3 linked regions of the Homo sapiens genome follow. The protein of the gene in region 1 interacts with the protein of each later gene in a pairwise test. Each region holds a gene or a part of one and is shown on either strand. Other genes may lie near its edges.

Region 1 (6,857 bases):
CTGGGTGACAGAGCAAGACTCTGTCTCAAAAAAAAAAAAAGTAAAGAAAACATATATATATATATATAGAGAGAGAGAGAGAGAGAGAGAGAGAGAGAGAGAGAGAAAGAGAGAGAGAGAGAAACCTGGAAACCTGGCCAGGCACAGTGGCTCACACCTGTAATTCCAGCACTTTGGGAGGCCAAGGTGGGCAGATCACCTGAGGTCAGGAGTTCGAGACCAGCCTGGCCAACATGGTGAAACCCCGCCTCTACTAAAAATACAAAAATTAGCTGGACGTGGTGGTACATGTCTGCAATCCCAGCTACTCAGGAGGCTGAGGCAGGAGAATGGCTTGAACCTGGGAAGTGGAGGTTGCAGTGAGCCGAGATCGCGCCATTGCACTCCCACCTGGGCGACAGAGCAAGACTCCGTCTCAAAAAAAACATAAAAACTCAGTTGAAGCTGGTTGAGGTGGTCCATGCCTGTAGTCGCAGCTACCCAGGAGGCTGAGGCAGAAGGATCACTTGAGCCCAGGAATTTAAGACCAGCATAGCAAGACTCTTGTCTCTAAAAACAAAATTTTTTGATTAACAAAAGAAAAACTCAGTTGAAAGTGGTTGCCTTTAGAGAAGGAGAAATGGGGGTGGGATCAGGAGAATGCTGCCTTTCATAGAACTGACTTTTTAAACTCGTAACTTCTACGAATTGAGGTAAACTCCTTACTTTTTTAAAAAAATAAGTAAAAAAAAGTAAAGTTGTAAAAGAAAAGCTCCATCAACTATCCATCCCCCAAAAACTTTTTTATGCCTATTTAATCTACATTCTTCAAAATTTTTTTAACCTGCCTAGCTTTAATGGTATTATTTACATTAACCAACTGAAAAACTGTTTTCAGAACCCCATTTTTAAAAGCATTTAAAAGAATTCTGCACCAACATGTGGAGACACATATAATCCAACCCCTGTATACTTCATTAGGGCTTATTTGTTTAAACAGTTTCATTGGCATTCATACTTGGAACAACAGAGGGTTATTATAAAAAAAAAAAAACATAGTTGTGTTTATCATGCCAGGACTGGGTAACTTTATTCAAGACTTTGACAAAATGATCCCCAAAGTAATATAAATGTAGACACTTTAAAAAGTCCAGATGTGAAATTTCAAGAAAACTTTGAATTCAGTCCAAAGTCAGTATTAAGTCAAAAGTTGAACCAATTCTACAAATCATAAATACTATTTTCCTTCTTAAGTTCATATATTTTCTGAGATAGATTACCAACTTAGTTTTCTTTGATATTGGTATTTGGAATAATTTTAACATGATTTAACATCTTTAAGTTCTAAATCTATACTTATCCTGAATATCTTATTATAGTTAAAAATATAAATCCAGAACTGACAACTCTTCCTTACAGAAGAATTCCAATAATAAATGTAGAAGGATTGAGAGAAATAGAAAATCACCATTAGAACACCACAGTAGTAACTGCCACAAGCAAGATCTGCCAATGGATAGTAAAATGAGCAAAAGTTTAAGCAGAAACGGGACATTTGCATAGTCTCCGGGTATCTCCAGCAAATATTCAATAATTACAAGGAAAACACAGTAAGTTTACAGTAGCGAATCCTAGCAGACACCACCTTAGCATAGTGATCAAGGTTAACAACACCAGAAATACATTACAACATCAGGTATCCCCTGTTATGATACACTGTCACAGACTGGAAGACAGGACGTAGGCATGATAGCTAAATGCAAGGCTGGGTCTTGGAACAGTAAAAGGACATTAGTGAAAAGACTAAAATCTCTACTTTTTAAACTTTCTACTTTAGTTAGTATTATATCAAGGTTAATTTCTTAATTTTGACAAATGTTCTATTGTTACGTAAGATGTTAACATAAGGGCAAGGTGGGTGCAGAGTATACAAGAACTCTACTACTTTTACAACTCTTCTGTAAGTCTAAAATTATCTCAAAAGCTTAAAAAATAACTGTTAGAAAACAAACATGTATGTGCATAACATGTGTACATATATATAAATCAAGACTTCATGGAAATTGGCATCTTGGGCACTCAGTCAGTAAAAGAATAGTGTTCTCTTCTGAATTATTCATTGTCTTACTGGTAGCTTAGCTTTAAGGTCCTCCCCCTTCTAGACTTTTAATTTCAAGTATAAATTTCTAATTTTCATAGAAAAGCCTTTTTTAAACATTCCTATATTAGGCCAAAAATAAAATCCTAGAATAAAATTATCACCATATTATCTTATAAAATCACTCATCCCAATCATAAGACCCAGCCAGTATTTTTACTACATTTCCTCTCCTCATCTGTTTGTATTGGTTTGGTTTGGTTTATGAGTGGGGACAGCTAATAGATTTAGTATTTACTCATAGGCCTGACAGTCTAGGGGAAAAAAAATTATCACTTGGGTATCTTATGAAGAAACAGCTATTTTTCCAAGAACCAATATTGTGTACTCACCTCAGACATAAAAAGTTATTTACCTAAGTCTCTTCTATCTAACAGCATAGAGTTACCCAAACAAGGCCAATAAAGACCCTTTCAATATCCTTTTCTTAAATTTGGCTCTAAAATGACTGTTAATAATGGTAATAAATGTCTTTTTATTAAACAGACAATTTTATCTTATGCAATTTAGGGAAATAAACATAAAATCTACCTTTAAATGAAGAAAATAATAATTTCCCACTCTAACTATGGCTGATTCATTCCCTGAGCATGAATCCCATTTTACCCTCATTGTTTTTAACTATAAACTGAGCTGAAATCTGCTCACAGGTGAAACTAGTATTTTAGATGGAGAATGATATTACCAAGTAATCATATTTATTACTTTTTGTAGTAATTATTTCTACTCACTGTGGCATTTAATGTTTCATCTGTAACTCTCTATCACAATGCCCTCTATAGAAGCAGCAATAGTGAAAACATAACTACACTTTGGGGAAAAAAAAAAAAAACAGGAAAAAACAGATAACTTTTAAGTGGATCTTTATCCAAATACAATAAAAAAGCAAAAAAGAAAAGTGTCCGTAAACATTTTCATTTTATGTCAATGCCATTTCCAAATTTACCTTCCACTACTACCATGAACAGCAGAAGTGGTAAAAAAAAAAAAAAAAAAAAAAGAAGAAAAAAACTCTAACCTAATGATCTATAGAAAAAGGGAGACAATTTACTCACTACACATTGCAGTATATTCAAGTGGTGAAAAGATATAAATTTTTTCAGAACTGCCATACTATCTGGCTGTCAATATAGTCTCTTGAATAATTATATTAAACATATTACTACAAAATGTACCAAGAAGTAGAGAATAATACTATATTTGTAAACTGCAAATAACAAAACAAAACAGAAGTCCAAGAAGGCTAAAGTCTAAGCTATAATTACACATGAAGTATATGTTGAAAGCAGTCACAATGTACAAAAATGTGACAAGATATCCAGATGTTTAAAAAAACACATCCTGTTTGTCTCAGATTATATCCAGTTTCATCTGGTAGGTTTCTGATAAGCCTGTTGTGTGAAGTGTGTTTCCCTCCTGCTGGTAAGAAGCAGCTTGTAGATATCCATAAATTTTTTAAGGAGTGAGTCTACTTGGCAATATTGGTAACTCCATAGTTTCCTATTACATTCATTCGTCTGAAAACTGAAAACAACTCATGACTAAAATATTCTTCCATTCCTTTGCCAGTTTTTCAAGTATAAAATCAAAGGAAAGCTGGAATGTATTGCTTCTTGTCATCAACAGGCATTTCAAAAAGAGGGTAATTAACCAAATCAAGTGTTCTTTGGTCAAGTTAGTAACAGGCTTCCACTTTGTTCTAAATCCTTTCATAATCCTTTTTTTTCTAATTTTTCCAGTATGGCCTGAATCTTACAAACAGCCTCTTTTCTGGCCTGCCGTACAGAGTCCTGGCCCCCAGTTTCAACTGAATCCAGTTCCAAAAGTTCCTTGGTTAGCATTTCTTCCAGAAGCCAGTATGCTTTGTCTGTCTTTTTTCCTACAAATTCTTCTACTTCTTGTTCAAGATACTGGACCTTCTCCAGCACATGTATGATTTTTTTAATACTCGGAGGAGTACTTTCATCTGAAGGTACACATTCTTCAGGAAGACTGCTACTTTGATCTTGATTGTTGGGATGGTCACTGGTGGCATTACCATACAGCTGAGGCTCAGCACTATACTGGACTTGGGAATCCAAAAGATCTGAATCATCATTGTTCACTGTCCCCGAGGATTCGTACTGATGGACACTGCAAGGAAAGTTGTGCCGGTTCATGCTTTGATCTGATTGGCTATAGGGGTATGAAGAATCCTTGGAGTGGGAGAGCAAAAAGAGGAAAAGAGCTGTTTTAATGGGAATGCATCAACATCAAATTTGTTAGCCCACATCTTTCACTTGACCAGAAAGGTACATGAAAAGATTCCCTAACAATAAAATTGGACCCCTCTCCTTAATCATTTGCAAAAAAACACAGTCCTAAGAAGATAAAAGGGAGTGCCCTGTCAGACAAAAGGCACAGAATTTTTGAGTTATAATGGCTGGAACCTGCCCTGTGGCAGGTCCATCACCATGAGCACCTCATAGTCCATCCTGTGACCTAATTAATAAGAATTAGTTTTTCCCCTAAAAGGTTAAAAACCTCAAGCAAGGTCTTGAAAAGGAACACAGCCACAAGTGATAATGTTCAAGTCTGTGGTTTAAATACAAGCTCATGCTACAGATATTTCACATTGGTTTTGTCTTCTGTTCATAGATTATTTGAAGTAGTAAAATGCATCTTTGCATTTAACGTTTAGAAGAATTACAACAAACAGAAAATGTGTATCTTTCTGTCTTTTAACAAAAACGATGTGAATCTAAATCTTCTCTAAATATAAAGTCTATTAAAAAAAAGAAAAAGGAAACCGAGCTGAGGTAAAGCTATAGATAAGTAGTCACCAACTTTTTGTAATTAGTCCCCATTTAACACAAACCAGTACAGAAACTATATAAACCATGTTATGTTCTCCTAATTACACACACATTAAAGGAACAACATTTAGGTCTCCTACCTTGGGCTGCTGGACTGGGGGTGAAGGGGGTGACTGGGGAGAGCCACTGCTAGGCCATGGTGAAGTACTTTCAGTCATGTAGAGATTGCCGGGTGGTGCTGAGGGCGCTGATGAAGGCCAGGGATAACGGCCACCCATTCCATAAGCACCAGGAGAAGCCCACGCATCTTCTTGTGGTCGTACAGTCGGTCCTGATTGTGGAACACTACGATTACCATCTCCATAAGGATAATGGGGCAGGGTCATTCCAGGGTTCTAGATTGAGAAGAAGAAATATACCAGTCATTGTGAAAAACTTATAATAAAAATATTCTGCTACAGGCAGATTCTGAGATGCTTCCTCTCTTCTTAACAGAGTATACATTAGCTGCTACCGGACTAAACTGTAGTAAATCTAATTAATCAGCTGCAGTAATTTCTCCAAGCCTCAAAAAGTTGGTTCCAAAGATACCAGGGGTAGATTTAATGACAATAAAACTCAGAAGGAATAAGGCCTAAAAATTCAATGGATGAAACCCAAGTCTGTCCCATAGATACTATAAACAAACGGACCCATATGCTATAAGGAAGCACAAATAAAGACATGTTAGAACTCCTCTTGAAGTGAACAGAGAAATAAACATAGTTATTCACAGAATATTAAAAAAACATGAACCTGGCCAGGCGCGGTGGCTCACGCCTGTAATCCCAGCACTTTGGGAGGCTGAGATGGGCGGATCACGAGGTCAGGAGATCGAGACCATCCTGGCTAACAAGGTGAAACCCCATCTCTACTAAAAATACAAAAAAAATTAGCTGGGCGCGGTGGCGGGCGCTTGTAGTCCCAGCTACTCGGGAGGCTGAGGCCGGAGAATGGCATGAACCCAGGAGGTGGAGCTTGCAGTGAGCCTAGACCGTGCCACTGCACTCCAGCCTGGGCGACAGAGCGAGACTCCGTCTCAAAAAAAAAAAAAAAAAAAAGAACCTAACAGGGTGCTAAAAAAGGCTAAGATTTGCCTGGCACGGTGGCTCATGCCTGTAATCCCAGCACTTTGGGAGGCCGAGGGGGGCAGATCACGAGGTCAGGAGATCAAGACCATCCTGGCCAACATGGTGAAACCCCATCTCTACTAAAAATACAAAAATGAGCTGGGCGTGATGGCGCGTGCTTGTAATCCCAGCTACTTGGGAGGCTGAGGCAGAAGAATTGCTTGAACCCAGGAGGTAGAGGTTGCAGTGAGCCAAGATCACGCCACAAAAAAAAAAAAAAGGCTAAGATAGGGAAACTTTCAAGCAGCAACTCTCTAAAGATTACTTTCAGTATAAAAATTTATGATTATGACCTTCAGCCAAAGTCCATTTACTGCAATAGCTGCCACAAATAAGAAAGGCATCAATATAAAAGCCTTCCCAATCTAGAAGTGTCTTATTAAATCAGCACTAGTATGAACAGATGCTCTTCCACTGTTTACAAGAGGCAGAGACTTTGAATTCATTTTTTTCCCAATAGAAAACAACTCACCTGTGAAGGCGGATATCCTGGAACCTGCCCCCTAAGAGGGGGTGCTTCAGTCTGACAGTCCTGCTGGGGATAGATCCAACGAGAGACTGGAGTTGGGCTGTTGCCAGATGAACGGTAAGTACTTGGAACTTCTGTGGAGTAACTGGTCTGAGTATAACCAGGTGCATAATAAGCCCCTGAGTATGAGGCAGTATTTGCCCCAGGGCCTGGGGGGTATGTTGGACCATACGCTCCATTTGTATAAGAATTCAAACTCTGAAAAAAACCAAGTTGAGTGAAAAAAA
Region 2 (7,853 bases), on another chromosome or scaffold:
GTGGGAGGATCGCTTGAGCCCAGGAGTTCAAGACCACTCTCTGCAACATAGAGAGACCTTGTCTCTACTAAAAAATCAAAATAAAAACAAAAACAATAAGGCATGGTGGTTGTGGTCCCAGCTACTGGGGAGCCTGAGGCGGAAGGACTGCTTGAGCCCAAGAGTTGGAGCTTGAAGTGAGCTATGATTGCACCACTGCACCCTGTCTTGGGTGACAGAGTGAGAACTCACCTCAAAAAAAAAGGAAAAAAAAAAGCAGTTGAAAATATTCTAAATAGAAAATGCATTTAATACACCTAACCCACCACACATCACAGCTTAGCCTAGCCTACCTTAAACATGCTCAGAACACACTTACATTAGCCTGTGGTTGGGCAAAATCATCTAACACAAAACCTATTTTATGATAAAGTGTTGACTATCTCATGCCATTTATTAAATACTCCAAGTGTAAAACAGAATGGTTATATGGGTACTCGAAGAGCGGTTTCTACTGAATGTGTATGCGTATTGCTTTCACACCACCATAAAGTTGAAAAACTCTAAGTGAAACCATTGTACGATGGGCCATCTGGAGTATGCTTTGGGCATGGCCTTGAATCCAAATAAGATCCAGGTTTGACATACTGTATGTGAAACTATACTTCATTTCTATTCAACCCCAAGTAGAAAAGCAAGCCTACAATAGAGACAGACAGGCATCAATAATGAAAAACCCTGACCACTTCTTATGGGTTTACATGTGAGGTGCTATCCCAGAAATAGTCAAGGATAGATCTCCATGAATATGCAAATATAGAATATTAGGATCAATTCAATTTTGAAATGTAAAATCATCTAACTATTTTAAATGAGAGCAAGGAGATTGATAAGTGAGTAGATAAGTCCTTTTTGGGTATCTTATGCTAGGGTGGTTAGTTAACAACATTAACTCCGGAGGGGTGCAGTGGATCATGCCTGTAATCCTAGCACTTTGAGAGGCCGAGGCAGGTGGATTGCCTGAGCTCAGGAGTTTGAGACCAGCCTGGGCAACACGGTGAAACCCCGTCTCTACTAAAATACAAAGAAAAAAAAAATTAGCCGGGGCGTGGTAGTGTGCACCTGTAATCTCAGCTACTGGGGAGGCTGAGACAGGAGAATCGCTTGAACCCGGGAGGTGGAGGTTGCAGTGAGCCGAGATAGCATCACTGCATTCCAGCCTGGGTGACAGAGTGAAACTCCGTCCCAGAAAAAAAAAAAAAAAAAAATAGAAAGAAAGGAAAGGAAAAGAAAAGAAAAAAAGAACATAAACTCCAGCACCAGATTGTTATCTGTCCACCACTTCCCGGCTGGACAAATTACTTAACCACTCTTGTGTCTCAGTTTCCTCATGTGTAAAATGGAGATACTAACAGTACTTAGTTCACAGGATTGTTTAAAAAAGTAAAGTTAATATACACAAAGCATTCAGAGCAGTGCCAAAGGCTCTGTTACCTCCTAGGAGATACATTTTTAATCACGAATCTGTTGGTAATGTCTATTTCTAAAGACTTTTCTCTCCTCAAACTAGACTTTAAAAAAAAAAAAGAAAGGAAAAAACGAAACACCTTTCTTCACAACAGTCAAAACTGCATTGCTCCCCAAAAGCAGTTCTTCTGAATGCACTAGAAGTCTAATTAACTAGACCATCAGGGCGGTCCTCTGAAGAGGAAACAATTTACACAGTATGTAGCTGTTATTATTTTTGACTGGATTCATTTCACTCACATTCAACAGAAATGTAAACAATCTTACAATTCCAATTTCTCCATGACCAATCCAACCAATCAGCAGGCAGAACACTCCTTTAGATCTAAGCCCAAGTACTAATGTCAAGTTGACAATTTATTACACTTCCCCGGGTAAATTATTTTGCTCCTCTGTGTTTAGGGTTTTTTATTGTAAAGGTGGACTACAGTGGTTAATTTCCCATTCTTCTCTCACCCCAAAATACTAAGTTCTCTCCAGTAAAGTTCTCAATTGTCATATTCAAATAAGTTGTGTATTCAAAAAGGGCTACAGTGAGTTCAGCTAGCGATTTTATTTTACCTCGAAAAGGTTCAAGTGTCAGTTCCTTATTGGAGGGAGAGCATCAGGATAAAAAGCTAATGGATGCTGGGCTTAATACCTAGGTGATGCATGGCACACGTTTACCTTTGTAACAAGCCCGCACATCCTGCACATGTACCCCCAGAATACCCCAGAACTTAAAAAAAATTAAAATTAAAAGACCCAACCCTGAGATTCTTAGGCACCTTTACCTGCGTGACTAATAACAAGATCTGCTTTCTGAATGTCTTCTTTCAAGGAATCCTTGTACCTGTAAACATCCAGAGTAAACGACTCAGTACTGAAGGGTTCAGGTACCACCGTTCCTCTACCAATTTGCAGGATAAGTCGGTTGTAACCAAGGCTCTCGATTTTCTGAAAGAGGAAATCAGAATGTGAGGGCCTTTTAAACTGGCTATGTAAAACAGAGCAGGAACCACCACCACTACTAAAGTTTGACGTTAACATCGGAGCACGGCCGCCAAAAAGCCTATCTGTGGCCGATTTCACTTAGTTTTCAAAACTATTTTCTGGTCCGGGGCCCGACGAGGAACCTCCCAAGCACTCATGAATCTAAGCGACCCAGCTCGCAGAGTCCCGCGAAAGCCACAGCAGGAAAAGACTTTGGAAAAGGAGTCGCAAACTCGGGGGGAACCCAGGCACTACCCGTTCTGCCTCACTTGATCAACTGCGAGAACCGGGAGCCCTGAGGGGACGACGCGCGCTGAGGAGAGGAACCGCGCGGGCTCCGGCCAAGTGCTGAGGGGAAGGAGCCGGGCTCTGAGGCGAGCTCGGCTGGCTCAGACGCCGGCGCCGACGTGCGGTCCACAGGGGGGCCTGAGGAAAAACTGCCGAGCCCGGTGGAAAACCCGAGCTCGGAGGGGCGGAGCCGTTGGAAGGAGGGGCGGAGGACGCGGAGGCGGAGAATAGAGCGCGGGGGCAGACCGGAAAAGGAGCTGAAGAAATGAGGGAGAGGAGCGGCCGGAATAATGGGAAGAGGAAACAGGCAACCCCGAGTGGCCGGGTAGCCGGAGAAGGGCCCCGCCGGGCGTGGGCAGAAGCCAGCTAAGGGGCAGCGGCACCTGTGGTAGAGTTGCGGGGGTTTCTTTCCGAGCGCGACGGTCAGGCAAGGCTAACGCGGCTGGCAGTATGGCCGGAGATGGCGGGTGGCGAGCCAAGCCGCCGCCTGCTCGCCTCCCTCACTCACTTGCAGACTGTCGGGCGCCGACACACACGCAATGAGGTCGTCAAAGCTGGTGGTCCCTACGGTAACAAACACGCACTTCATGGCGCGGGTTCCTCAAGCCCTGATCGCAAGGGCCGGATATGACGCAACTGAGGCCACGCACGTTGCAGTGACTGCCTTCTGTGAGGGAGGCGGAAATCCGTAATGGCCGCCAGGGGGCGGCGGGGCCCCGGGCTGTGTCACCGGTTGGGTGGGGCAAAAGACTATTGGTGGCCTAGGTACCAGCCACTGTTCTAAGCCCTTTATGTGTAGGAGCCAGCTCTTGAGACCCCTCACTATAAGGGAATGGGGAATTGCCAAATGTAATTAACTTTTTCAAAACTGATGGGTAAAAAAAAAAAACATCATACCCTAAGCATTGAGTTGGTGTCGTTGCGTGGGTACCACAATCTTTTAATGACAGACAAGTTTGAGATTTTTTTGTTTGCTGCCAGGTTTTGTCAAGATACATTTGAGAGATGGTTTTACTTCGAGTTGGCTAAGGGGATATGAAAAATAAAAGTGCCTTACCAGGCACAGTGGCTGTAATCCCAAGCTACTGGGAAGAATCACTTGAGCCCAGGAGTTAAGACTAGCCTGGGCAACATAGCAAAACCCTTGTCTCTAAAAATATTATTTTTTAGGCCAGGTGCCATCGCTCAAGTATGTAATCCCAGCACTTTGGGAGGCCAAGGCAGGTATATTATTGAGGTCAGAAGTTCCAGACCAGCCTGGGCAACATGGTGAAATCCTGTCTCTCCTAAAAATACAAAAATTAGCCGGGCGTGGTGGCAGGCTCCTGTAATCCCAGCTACTCAGGAGGGTGAGGCACGACAATTGCTTGAGCCCAGGAGACAGAGGTTTCAGTGAGCCCAAGATCCTGCCATTGCACTCCAGCCTGGGTGACACAGAATGAGACCCTGTCTCAAACAAACAAAAAAAATTTAATTAGCCGGGGGTGGGAGCACCCACCTGTGTTCCTAGCTAGTCAGAAGGCTGAGGCTGCAGTGAGCCATGATCACACCACTGCACTGCAGCCTGGACGACAGTGAGACCCCGTCTCGAAAAAATAAAAAAACTAAAAATAAAAGGCATCTTATAAGGTATGGGGTCTTGCTCTGTTGCCCAGGCTTGATTCTAACTCCTGGGCTCAAGCAGTCCTCCTGTGGCAGGCCACGTCTCACTAACGGAGGCCTCCATAACAACTGTTTCAGTACTGAGTGGTGAAGTTAATATTAAAAGCTAAAAAAAGCCAGTGCCCTTATACAAAGGCTGGAATGTAACTAAAGCCCACCAAGAGTTTTGCCTAGGCCTTTCCTGGGCCCTAAAGCATGACAAAATAACAAAGGAAGTCTTAACATTACCCATTTAGGATTAAACAAGTTTTATTGTGGGTCTGAAGAAACTCCCCAGGCCTCCACAAACAAGTTTGTTGGGAGTCCGAAGGAACTCCCCAAACCTCTGTGATTTAGCAGGAGACAAGATAAGGGTAATCACGCCAGCACCTGGACTCATTTAGATTTTTTTTTTTTTTTTTTGAGACGGAGTCTCGCTCTGTCACCCAGGCTGGAGTGCAGTGACACAATCTCGGCTCACTGCAAGCTCTGCCTTCCGGGTTCACGCCATTCTCCTGCCTCAGCCTCTCAAGTAGCTGGGAATACAGGCACCCACCACCACGCCCGGCTAATTTGTTGTATTTTTAGTAGCGACGGGGTTTCACCATGTTAGCCAGGATGGTCTCGAACTCCTGACCTCATGATCCACCCACCTTGGCCTCCCAAAGTGCTGGGATTACAGGCGTGAGCCACCGCACCTTGCCGGACCCATTTAGATTAAGTAAATTTACTGAGGCTCCAGAGGAAGATCTTCAAGATTCAGACCTTATTTATAGATTAAAAGAAGTTAATCACTTATGTCTTTAGATGAATGCACACTTACATGTAGACATATAGCTTAGAAGGTATATAAGCTCTGGAAAACATCGTGATTTTGAGTTGGTTTCGTGATAATATCCAGGCCTTTTCCCTGTAAACAGTTACAGAAATAAAAACTCTCTTCCTCCACAGTTTATCTGCATCTTGTTATTAGGTCACGAGAAATAGCAGCCCCACCCTCAGTTTGGTCCGAGAGCACTCCCGCCTCCGCCTCCACCTCCCAAGTAGCTGGGACTACAGGTGCATCAAAAGTGGCTTTTAGAAAATCACTCTAACTGGCTGGGCACGGTGGCTCACGCCTGCAATCACAGCACTTTGGGAGGCCGAGGTGGGTGGATCACAAGGTCAGGAGCTTGAGGCCAGCCTGGCCAGCATGGTGAAACCCCATCTCTACTAAAAATACAAAAATTAGCCAGGCACGGTGGCGGGCACCTGTAATCCCAGCTACTTGGGAGGCTGAGGCAGGAGAATCACTTGTACCTGGGAGGCGGAGGTTGCAGTGAGCTGAGATTGTGTCACTGCACTCTAGCCTGGGCAACAGAGCAAGATTCTGTCTCAAAAAAAAAAAAAATCGCTCCAACTTGGGCTCTTCTACCAACTGTGGTTCTCAGAAAACCAGGGCCCTCTAGGGTCCCCTGGAAGCTGCAAACAGTTAACCTCCATTAGCAAGCATGACTTGTAAAATAGAGGTGATAAAGCCTGAAGCATTGATCTACAATCTATTGAATTATTCCAGTGAACCATTTAAATATAACATTACACATTAGGACGATAAAGTACCACAGATAAATTACACTTAGGCAGGCACATATAGGAGAGGTTATTTCTCAAAACTCTCCTTTTTTCTCCTACCACCATCATAACCATTGTTAAGATAATTGCTCACTCTATCTCCTTCTAATGTTTTGTGTATTCCCTATTTAAAATATCACCTTAGCTCATATTTGTGCTTTGCCCTGCCTGGATATATACAGAAGAGAGGCTGTGAGAAGAAATTATTTTAAGGAGGAAAAGGATTGGAGGTAAATTGGGCCTAGAACATAGCCTGAGAAGACCCTTGGGCCTATTTCTACAGGATGTTTCCTTTAAATCTTGTAGCTTAGGCAGTTGTCCTTTTGAAGAGTAGCATGCACAATGGCAGGAAAACTCACCAGCTGCCTTTCTGAAAGTGACATCCAACAGAGACTTCTGGTTGGGACTTGGAAACTACCCAATCAGGACTCAGCTGTTTTCAACTAATGGGGACTACTTTTGAGTTGTTTATTTGCATACACAAACTTGATTAAGGGCTGGGAGGAGAACTTTCCCTATTTAAGCCAGACCCACTCTTTGTTCTTCGGAGCACTTAGTTTACATTGGAGGCTGTGTTCCCCCATCTGCAGATCTCGGGCTCTTAGGCTGAGGTCTCCGAGACTTTGTTTTCTCCAGGGAGCATGTTCACTTGCCTCTATGGGCCCTGTGGGGTACACTCACACTTCGTGGAGTACTTTTGCATTTTGCAATGTACTTGTGCTTGGTGGAGTATGCTCACATTTCAAGTTTTGTGGGGACACTCATGTTTCTGTTGTACTCAAAGGGATGCCTTTGTTATAGTGCCATGGGTAACCCATGTTCTAAGGTAATGGTCTCCAACCAGCCACCTTATGGTGCACTGATGACTTTTATATTTAAAAACCTATGGAGAAAATTCTTGTGCCTATTTAAGGCTCTGGATGAAACTTTTGGATTTAAAACTTCTTTGGCTACATTGGGGAGCTTTCTGTATCCCTAATCAAATTTATTTATGCCTGCAATTAGAACAAAGACGAATCTAGGCCTCTCAAAGACAATATAAGGCTTTCCTTAATAGGTACTATGAAAACTCCAAATGGAATCAAGAATTTCAGACTGCCTTCTTGAGAGAAACTAATTCCGAACTCAGTGCCTCCAAAAACTTGAAAATCCTCCTAGCCCAGATTCTGTTCCCAAGAAGGACTCAAACCCTTTGTTCCTCTTCCTTTCACTCCCTCTGCACTACCTCTACTTTATTCTCCTCTGCCACTACCTTCTTCACTTTCTGAACCTCCTTTTTTCTCCTCACTGTCTATCCCAGGCACACTACCCATAACCCCTCAACTCCTCTTATTGCCCCATTTAAAATAAGTGAAAATGTAGAGGGAGGTCAAACCATTTCTTACATTCCTTAGTCTAAATCTGAACTCTTGGCGATTGTCCTAAAACTGACTTCCTTGAATTTGAATGCCACTTTCATTTAATCGTAAGCGCATACTAGCCCAGACTCACCAAAATCTATCAATTAATTCACATGCTGGGGGTCATTTTTGTGGCTCAAACATGTATATGCCTAACTAAATGGATAAAACCTCCAGAGGACTGCCATTTCAAAAGGGACATGGCCATAACAAAAGCAAAGAAAATAACCTGTGATTTGTTAAAGGTCATTCCAGTGCTTTTTCTCTGGCAAATTAATTGGAAAGCCATTCAACGATTCACTCAAAAAAAAGATGAGTCTGCTTAGATTATTTTGACTGGTTCAAAAAGGCTTTCCAAGCTGGGTGTGGTGACTCACACCTGTAATCTCAGCACTTTAGGAGGCTGAGGCAGGAGGATCACTTGAGGTCAGGAGT
Region 3 (7,404 bases), on another chromosome or scaffold:
ACAAAAAATACAAAAGTTAGCCAGGTGTGGTGGCATGCACCCGTGTCCCAGCTACTTGGGAAGCTGAGGCAGGAGGATCATCTGAGCCCAGGAGGTCGCTACTGCAGTGAGCCATGATCATGCCACTGTACTGCAGCCCAGGCAACAGCAAGACCCTGTCTTTTTTTTTTTTTTTTTTTTTTTTTTTGAGACAGAGTCTCGCCCTGTCGCCCAGGCTGGAGTGCAGTGGCGCAATCTCGGCTCACTGCAAGCTCCGCCTCCCGGGTTCACGCCATTCTCCTGCCTCAGCCTCCTGAGTAGCTGGCACTATAGGCACCCGCCACCACGCCCAGCTAATTTTTTTGTATTTTTAGCAGGGACGGGGTTTCACCATGTTAGCCAGGATGGTCTTGATCTCCTGACCTCGTGATTCACCCACCTCGGCCTCCCAAAGTGCTGGGATTATAGGCGTGAGCCACCGCGCCCGGCCCTGACCCTGTCTTAAAAAATAAATAAAAAACAAAAAACCAGTAAGACATTTACTCGCTTCCTCCAGCTCAGGGTCCTGGGTGGCCAGAGCCCGTCCTGGCAGGGCCAAAAGCAGGAATGGACCCTGGACAGAACGCCATCCCATCACAGGGCGCACACGGGCCCACACTCACTCACACTGGGCCCACGGAGACCCGGGAGCTCACCCAGCGGACACATCCCAAGGATGCACAAGGAAAGGAGAGCCCAGAGGAACTTGCACCAGCACAGGGAGAACCCACAACCACCACCCAGACAATGGTCCCGGGAATCATTATTTTTTCCTCATCAATGTCACAACAAAATGTTATTCCAGGACCGGCATACTGTGTGGCAGGCGTTTTCTACAGCCTTCTTGTTTTACCTTTCCAGCCTCACAGAAGGCTGTAATTCCAGGTGGAAACAGGGGCTCTGAGGTTAAGAAGAACCCATCCAAGGCACCCTCAGCACGGGACTGTCTTTCACACCCCAGCAGGTCCAGATAGGAGGGTGGGTGGGGTGACAGCCATGGCTGTTGAGGGCCTCACGGAGGTGAGGAGCGCTGGGAATGGCGGGGGGGCCTGAGCTGAGGTCGCCCATATCTGAAGCCAAGGTGGCCCTTCCTCTGCCTGGCCCCTTGCCAGGCCTCGCCCTCATGGGTGACAACGACACGGCTTCCTGTTGCACTGTCTCCCTCTGGTGTCACCATCTGCTTTCCTCCAGTGTCCTCAGGCACAGCAGGGCCGGCCACACAGCAGAGGCTCATGGAAGGGGCCGATGACTGCAGGAGACGGGCAGGTGTGTGTGAGAGACAGAGTGGGAAGAGACCCCTGCCCGTGGGTCCTTCATGGCAGCACTACCAGCGGCGCAGGTGCAGAGCCACCGCCTGGGTCCAGATCCGCCCCAGCACTTACCAGTGTGGGACCTGGGCCAATGGCTGAATACCTGTGCCTCAGTTTCCTCATGTAAAAAAGAGGGTCATTTTGTTTGTTTTTGAGATAGGGTCTCATTCTGTCACCCAGGCTGGAGTGCAATGGCACGATCTTGGCTCACTGCAGCCTCTACCTCCTGGGTTCAGGTGATCCTCCTACCTCTGCCTCCCAAGTAGCTGGGACTACAGGTGTGAGCCACTGCGTCCAGCCCAAAGGAGGGGAATATTAATGGCAGCTACCTCCAGGATCCTCACAAGGAGTAAGGGTTGGTAAAGGCAACCTGAGTACTTCAAGGCAGTTCCGGGAGCCTTACTTATTGCATTCACAGCCTCCACATCTGTCAAACAAGGAGACGGCCCCAGCCAATGAGGGATGAAGCCCTTGGCTGGAGGAGAACCCCAGGAAGGAAGGGGGTCTGTTCTGTGGGCTCCTGTAGCCAGCACCTAGAACAGCCCGGGCGAGAGCTCGCTGCCTGGTAGCTGCGGCTCCCGTGTCACCTCCTCCCACAGCGAAGCTCCTGGAGGCAGGGCCCAGGCTGCACTCTGAGGGAACACGTCTGTGTCCACAGCAAAGCTCCCAGAGGCAGGGCCAGGCTGCACTCTGGTGGAACACGTCTGTGTCCCCACTCGCTAAGGGCTCCTTTATGTCCCTCCCTCATTCATGCCACAGACATTTCCTAGTGTCCTCCAGGAGCTCACCTACCTTGCCTGGCAGGGTTGACAGGTGCCCAAATGATGCCAACTGACAATCTGGGAAGGGCTGGGAGACTGAGTGCAAGGGGCCCGGGCAGTGCAGTGCAGAGCCTGCCCTCCAGGAGGGGGCCGGAGGTGGCAGGTATTCCAAGCAAAGGGCATGTGCCAAGGCAGGGGTGAGAGGCGGGGAAGGGAAGGGGCCCTCAGAGTGGGCTGCAGAGGGGGCATTTTCCCCTGCAGGCAAGTGCAGCCAACCTGAGGGTCAACGCAGGCCACGTTGCCTGAATGCCAGCCACAGTGGGCCACAGACTCAGTCCCTGCCCTGCTGGAGCTGGCGTTTCACCCGGGGAATGGGCAAAGGTGCAATGGCCGGCTTCACTATGCTCACAGCGACTGCCAAGAGGGAGGCAGGTGTGCTGCGAGGGTGCACTCCCACCCCTAGGAAGCACCCCGACTGTGCTGAGCCTGAGGGAAGAGGGGGAGTTCAACAGCAGGAGTGGGCTGTGAAGGCACACCAGGCCCAGGTCACAGCCAGGACGGCAGCCCCCGGAGGGGTGAGCTGGGGGAGAGAGTCAGCAGGGTCCTTCAGCCAGGCCAGGAGCGTGGAGTCTGAAGGGGTTCCAGCAAGTTCAGCTTTTCCCTTCATGAACTTCACACTGCCTGGGTTTGAATCTCGGCCCCGCCACTCACTGGCTCTGTGACCTTGGGCAGATTAGCCAACCATCCCGTGCCTCAGTTTCCCCACATGTGCCATGGGGCTAATGGCAGTACCTGCTCACAGTGGTGGTGTGACTGGCAGGTGGCAACAGCTGGATACACGGCTGTGTGACTGCTGGCCCCACTGTACCCAGCCCTGGACAGGGGCCATTCAGATCCTGGCTGAACTGAAAAGGGCTGTGGGGAATCACAGCAAAAGGGAGGGGCCGAGGAGGAGCAGGAGGCAGGGAAGAAAGGGCGGAGGAGGAAGGGAGAAGCCTCCACCCACCTCATCACAGCGAGACCTGGTGGTGTCCATGCCCATGTCACTGCAAAAGCTCTTCAGAGGTTAGGGGTTTATCTTTCTTAAAAACAGAAGGGGCTGGGCGCGGGGGCTCTTGCCTGTAATCCCAGCACTTTGGGAAGCCAAGGCGGGAGGATCACTTGAGGTTAGGAGTTTGAGACCAGCCTGGCCAACATGGCAAAACCCTGTCTCTACTGAAAATACAAAAATTAGCCGGGCGTGGTGGCGCACGCCTATAATCCCAGCTATTCAGGAGGCTGAGCCACCAGGATCGCTTGAACCCGGGAGGCAGAGGTTTCAGTGAGCTGAGATCACACCAACACATTCCAGCCTGGGTGACAGAGCGAGACTCAGTCACAAAACAAAACAAAACAAAACAAAACAAAACAAAACAGAAGGGCTGGCCAGACAGAGACTCTCCCATTCATATGAATCTGCCAGAGCCCAGCCCAGAGCCGGTGCATTTCTGGGGCTCCCCACGCCTGCCTCTGCTGAGTTTACACACAGACCGGATGAAAGGAAAGGTGGAAGGGAAGTCTTATCAGTGTCGGTGCTAATGACATCCACCACACAGGAAGGATCAATCAGACACAAAGCAGAGTTCCTGGAAATGAACAAATATGGTGGCCAAAATCAACACTTTTTAACAAGGGAACTGAATAACAGAGAAACCTGTAAGACAGATAACACCTCCCAGAAGAAAAACAGGAGGGAGGAAAAAATGAGAGAAAAGCTACAGGATGCTTGGAAGAGATGCAGGAAGTCTAATATTCCCTGTGGTGCCTACAGGACATACAGGGAACGATGCAGGAGAAGAAATCATCAGAGAGATCACAGGAGAAAAATGTCCTGAGCTAAAGGAAGATTCACACGTCCAGACTGAAGCCAAGGGGTTGAGCTCCAAGGAGGATGAACGGAAAAAGCAAACCAAAGCCCCTTTAGACACTTGGGAGCTCCTGGTCTCAGACAATGGGTGACAGCGCCTTAGCTCTTTACTACATGCACTCAGGGGAATCCTCTCTTTGCCCAAAGGCTTCCCTTGTCTTCAAAGCCTCTGAGGTAGAAAAGCCACGGCTGCTTCCTCCAAGGGCTTCTCCTCCTTAGAGAACAAAGGCCTTCCTGGCCCCTCTGGCCGGTCCTCCAGTTCACAACCTGTGACAGCCCAGGAGAATGGCCACAAATAACCACCGTACCAGGCAGGATAGGAGGTCACAAAAGCCCTACACACTGGCTGTGGCTCCTGGGCACCTGTGCTGTGGGGACAGAGATGAAGGAGCCACCATCCCTGTCCTCAAGGAGCTCTGAAGCTGGTGGGAAAGGCGGCCTGTGCTACCCAGAAGCCCTGGGGCCAGAAGCCTGAGTTCTAATTTTGCCTTTAAGAGAACATTCTGCCCTGAACTGGGAGGGAGGCGGGTGGGGGCCATGTGCTCCACCCCTTCCTGTCTCTTGTGTCTGCCCTACCCCTCGATTGTTCTCTAGGCACCTGCTAGCTCCTGGGCAGAGGCTGACCCTGTTCAACGCCCACCTGCTGAGCCACTCTGTGCCAGGCCCAGGGGTGTGGTGGGGAACCCAGGGAAGGAGCAGCCCTGGTTAAGAAAAGCACACAGACAGAAGTGCTGGCACACAGATGGGTGAGTGAGGGGTGGGTGCGAGAAGCCTGCAGGACTTCCCTGCTGTTGCCCTCAACTCTCCTCCCTGGTCCAGCAAGGCATCCTGAGCAAGTCCAGATCCTGCCTCTGCCCACTCAGAACTCCCCATCCTGTCCCCTGGCCCAGCCCGGAAGGTTGAGCCCACCACAGCCTCTGCCTTAAGCTCCTGCAACAGCGGGGCCCTTCCCAGGCCAATCTCCATCCAGTCCATTCCTGTGGCCAGGGAGACATTTCTAGAATGTAAATCTGAGCCAGGCGCACCTCAGTTTAAACCCGGCTATGGCTCCCACTGCCTTCGGGATGGAGCCCCAGTTCCCAGGAGGGCCTCGCTGGAGCTCCCAGCCACAGATGCTCAGGACGGTGTTCCGGGCAGGGACCTATCTGACAGCCGCTCCGCCCGCCCCACACCCTCCTCAGATAAGGGGCTGCCCAAGTGCACTCTCGGGGTGTGGTGGATGGAGGCCTGGCGCAGCAGGGCTATTCTCGGGGCGCCTCGGGCCTGGTCTCAGACAATGGGTGACAGCGCCTTAGCTCTTTACTACATGCACTCAGGGGAATCCTCTCTTTGCCCAAAGGCTTCCCTTGTCTTCAAAGCCTCTGAGGTAGAAAAGCCACGGCTGCTTCCTCCAAGGGCTTCTCCTCCTTAGAGAACAAAGGCCTTCCTGGCCCCTCTGGCCGGTCCTCCAGTTCACAACCTGTGACAGCCCAGGAGAATGGCCACAAATAACCACCGTACCAGGCAGGATAGGAGGTCACAAAAGCCCTACACACTGGCTGTGGCTCCTGGGCACCTGTGCTGTGGGGACAGAGATGAAGGAGCCACCATCCCTGTCCTCAAGGAGCTCTGAAGCTGGTGGGAAAGGCGGCCTGCGCTACCCAGAAGCCCTGGGGCCAGAAGCCTGAGTTCTAATTTTGCCTTTGAGTCTTGCTGAACCACCTCGAAATCCCTTCCTCTACCAAGCACAGGGTCCCTCCTCTGTGAATCGGGAGGGCTGTCCTGAGGACTAAATGCAGTCAACACTGTGCAAGTACTGCACAGACGCCCTCAGGAAACGGGAGGCCTGTCTGGTTCAGAGGAACCCTTTTGGGCCAAAGAGAAGGAATGGAGAGAGGAGGTGGGGCCAATAAAGAGAAAGGACTGAGGAAGCCGTTTCTCATGACAGGCCCCCTGAAAAACGGGGCTCCCCAGGAGGAAGGAGTGAGGGGAAACGATGCAGTTCTCACCCCTAGCTGCAGCGAGAGCCACCTGGGAGCTTTCTGAGGCCTGACACTCAGGCCTCACCCCAACCGGGTTCGTCAGAGTCTCTGGTGTGGGACTCCAGCATCGGAATGTAGTGGCAGCTGGGTAGGGAACCCCTGCCCAAGGTCCCAGGCACATTCGTGTGCTCTGAAAGGCTGGTGGTGAGCAGAGCTGAGTAAGCCAGTTTCCCACACTCGCTTGACCACAGAAACCCATTAAAATCCTTCCCAGGGCAAATGCTGGGAAATGCAAGTGAGAGTTTACAGCACAGGCTTTGGAAGTGGGAGGCCTGGTCGCGCTCCTGACTCTGCCACTTGAGAGCAAGGAACTCCGTCCATCAAAGCCTCCGCCGCCTCATCTGTAAATCGGGGAGGACCATGCCAACCTCTCTGGGTCATCAGAAGATCAAATGAAATCAAGAGTGAGAAGCCATGAGTGCACACAGGAAGCACTCATATGAGGGGAGGGAGGGAAGAGCTAGCACTGCTCATAAGCCAAATGAATCCCAGTCCCCACCCATCCCCACCTGCCACGGCACAGGCTCTGCATTCACCTCCTCAACACGTCCACACTGAGGACCCACTACGAGCCAGGACATCCAGTGGTCATCAATACACACCCAGGCCCATCCCGCACAAAGTACACTCCGGCTGGGGGAGACGCATGTGAATTAAAGGATCATACAGATACACAATTCAGACGCATCCTGGCAGGGCGTGCTGGCTCACACCTGTAATCCCAGGTGTGAGTTTTTGGGAGGCTGAGGCCAGAGGATCGCTTGGGCCCAGGAGTTCAAGGTCAGCCTGGGCAACATTGTGAAAACCTATCTCTACAAAAAATTTAAAAATTAGCAGGGTATGGTTGTGTGCACCTGTACTCCTAGCTACTCAGGAGGCTGAGGTGGGAGGATCACTTGAGCCCAGGAGTGTGAGGCTACAGTGAACTATGATCATGCTACTGCACTCCGGCTTGGGTGACAGAGCAAGACTCTCTTTAAAAAAAAATCAGCCGGGCGTGGTGGCTCACGCCTGTAATCCCAGCACTTTGGGAGGCCGAGGTGGGCAGATCATGAGGTCAGGAGATCGAGACCATCCTGCCTAACACATTGAAACCCCGTCTCTACTAAAAATACAAAAAAAAAAAAAATTGCCAGGCGCGGTGGCTCACACCTGTAATCCCAGCACTTTGGGAGGCCAAGGCAGGCAGATCACAAGGTCAGGAGATCGAGACCATCATGGCTAACACAGTGAAACTCTGTCTCTACTAAAAATACAAAAAATTAGCCGGGCGTGGTGGCAGTCACCTGTAGTCCCAGCTACTCGGGAGGCTGAGGCAGAAGAATGGCGTGAACCCGGGAGGCAGAGCTTGCAGTGAGCCCAGATCGCGCCACTGCACTCCAGCCTGG

What was found. Proteins that work in one complex are often made in the same cells at the same time.
Region 2: the proteins of BAG4 (region 1) and ALG13 interact in binary tests that used the Homo sapiens proteins (3 or more experiments, as listed by UniProt).
Region 3: the proteins of BAG4 (region 1) and TRAPPC6A interact in binary tests that used the Homo sapiens proteins (3 or more experiments, as listed by UniProt).

What each region holds. Positions count from the first base shown.
Region 1 is NC_000008.11:38,207,483-38,214,339, reverse strand, and holds the end of BAG4 (BAG family molecular chaperone regulator 4), read right to left. Parts: intron 6,829-6,857; coding exon 6,574-6,828; intron 5,328-6,573; coding exon 5,073-5,327; intron 4,333-5,072; coding exon 3,847-4,332; 3' UTR 1,039-3,846; downstream 1-1,038. UniProt on the Homo sapiens protein: Inhibits the chaperone activity of HSP70/HSC70 by promoting substrate release. Prevents constitutive TNFRSF1A signaling. Negative regulator of PRKN translocation to damaged mitochondria.
Region 2 is NC_000023.11:111,676,721-111,684,573, reverse strand, and holds the start of ALG13 (UDP-N-acetylglucosamine transferase subunit ALG13), read right to left. Parts: upstream 3,405-7,853; 5' UTR 3,356-3,404; coding exon 3,275-3,355; exon of another isoform or gene 3,150-3,274; intron 2,918-3,149; exon of another isoform or gene 2,748-2,917; intron 2,443-2,747; coding exon 2,280-2,442; coding exon of another isoform or gene 2,274-2,279; intron 1-2,273. UniProt on the Homo sapiens protein: Catalytic subunit of the UDP-N-acetylglucosamine transferase complex that operates in the biosynthetic pathway of dolichol-linked oligosaccharides, the glycan precursors employed in protein asparagine (N)-glycosylation.
Region 3 is NC_000019.10:45,167,834-45,175,237, forward strand, and holds part of TRAPPC6A (trafficking protein particle complex subunit 6A), read right to left. Parts: intron 1-7,404. UniProt on the Homo sapiens protein: May play a role in vesicular transport during the biogenesis of melanosomes.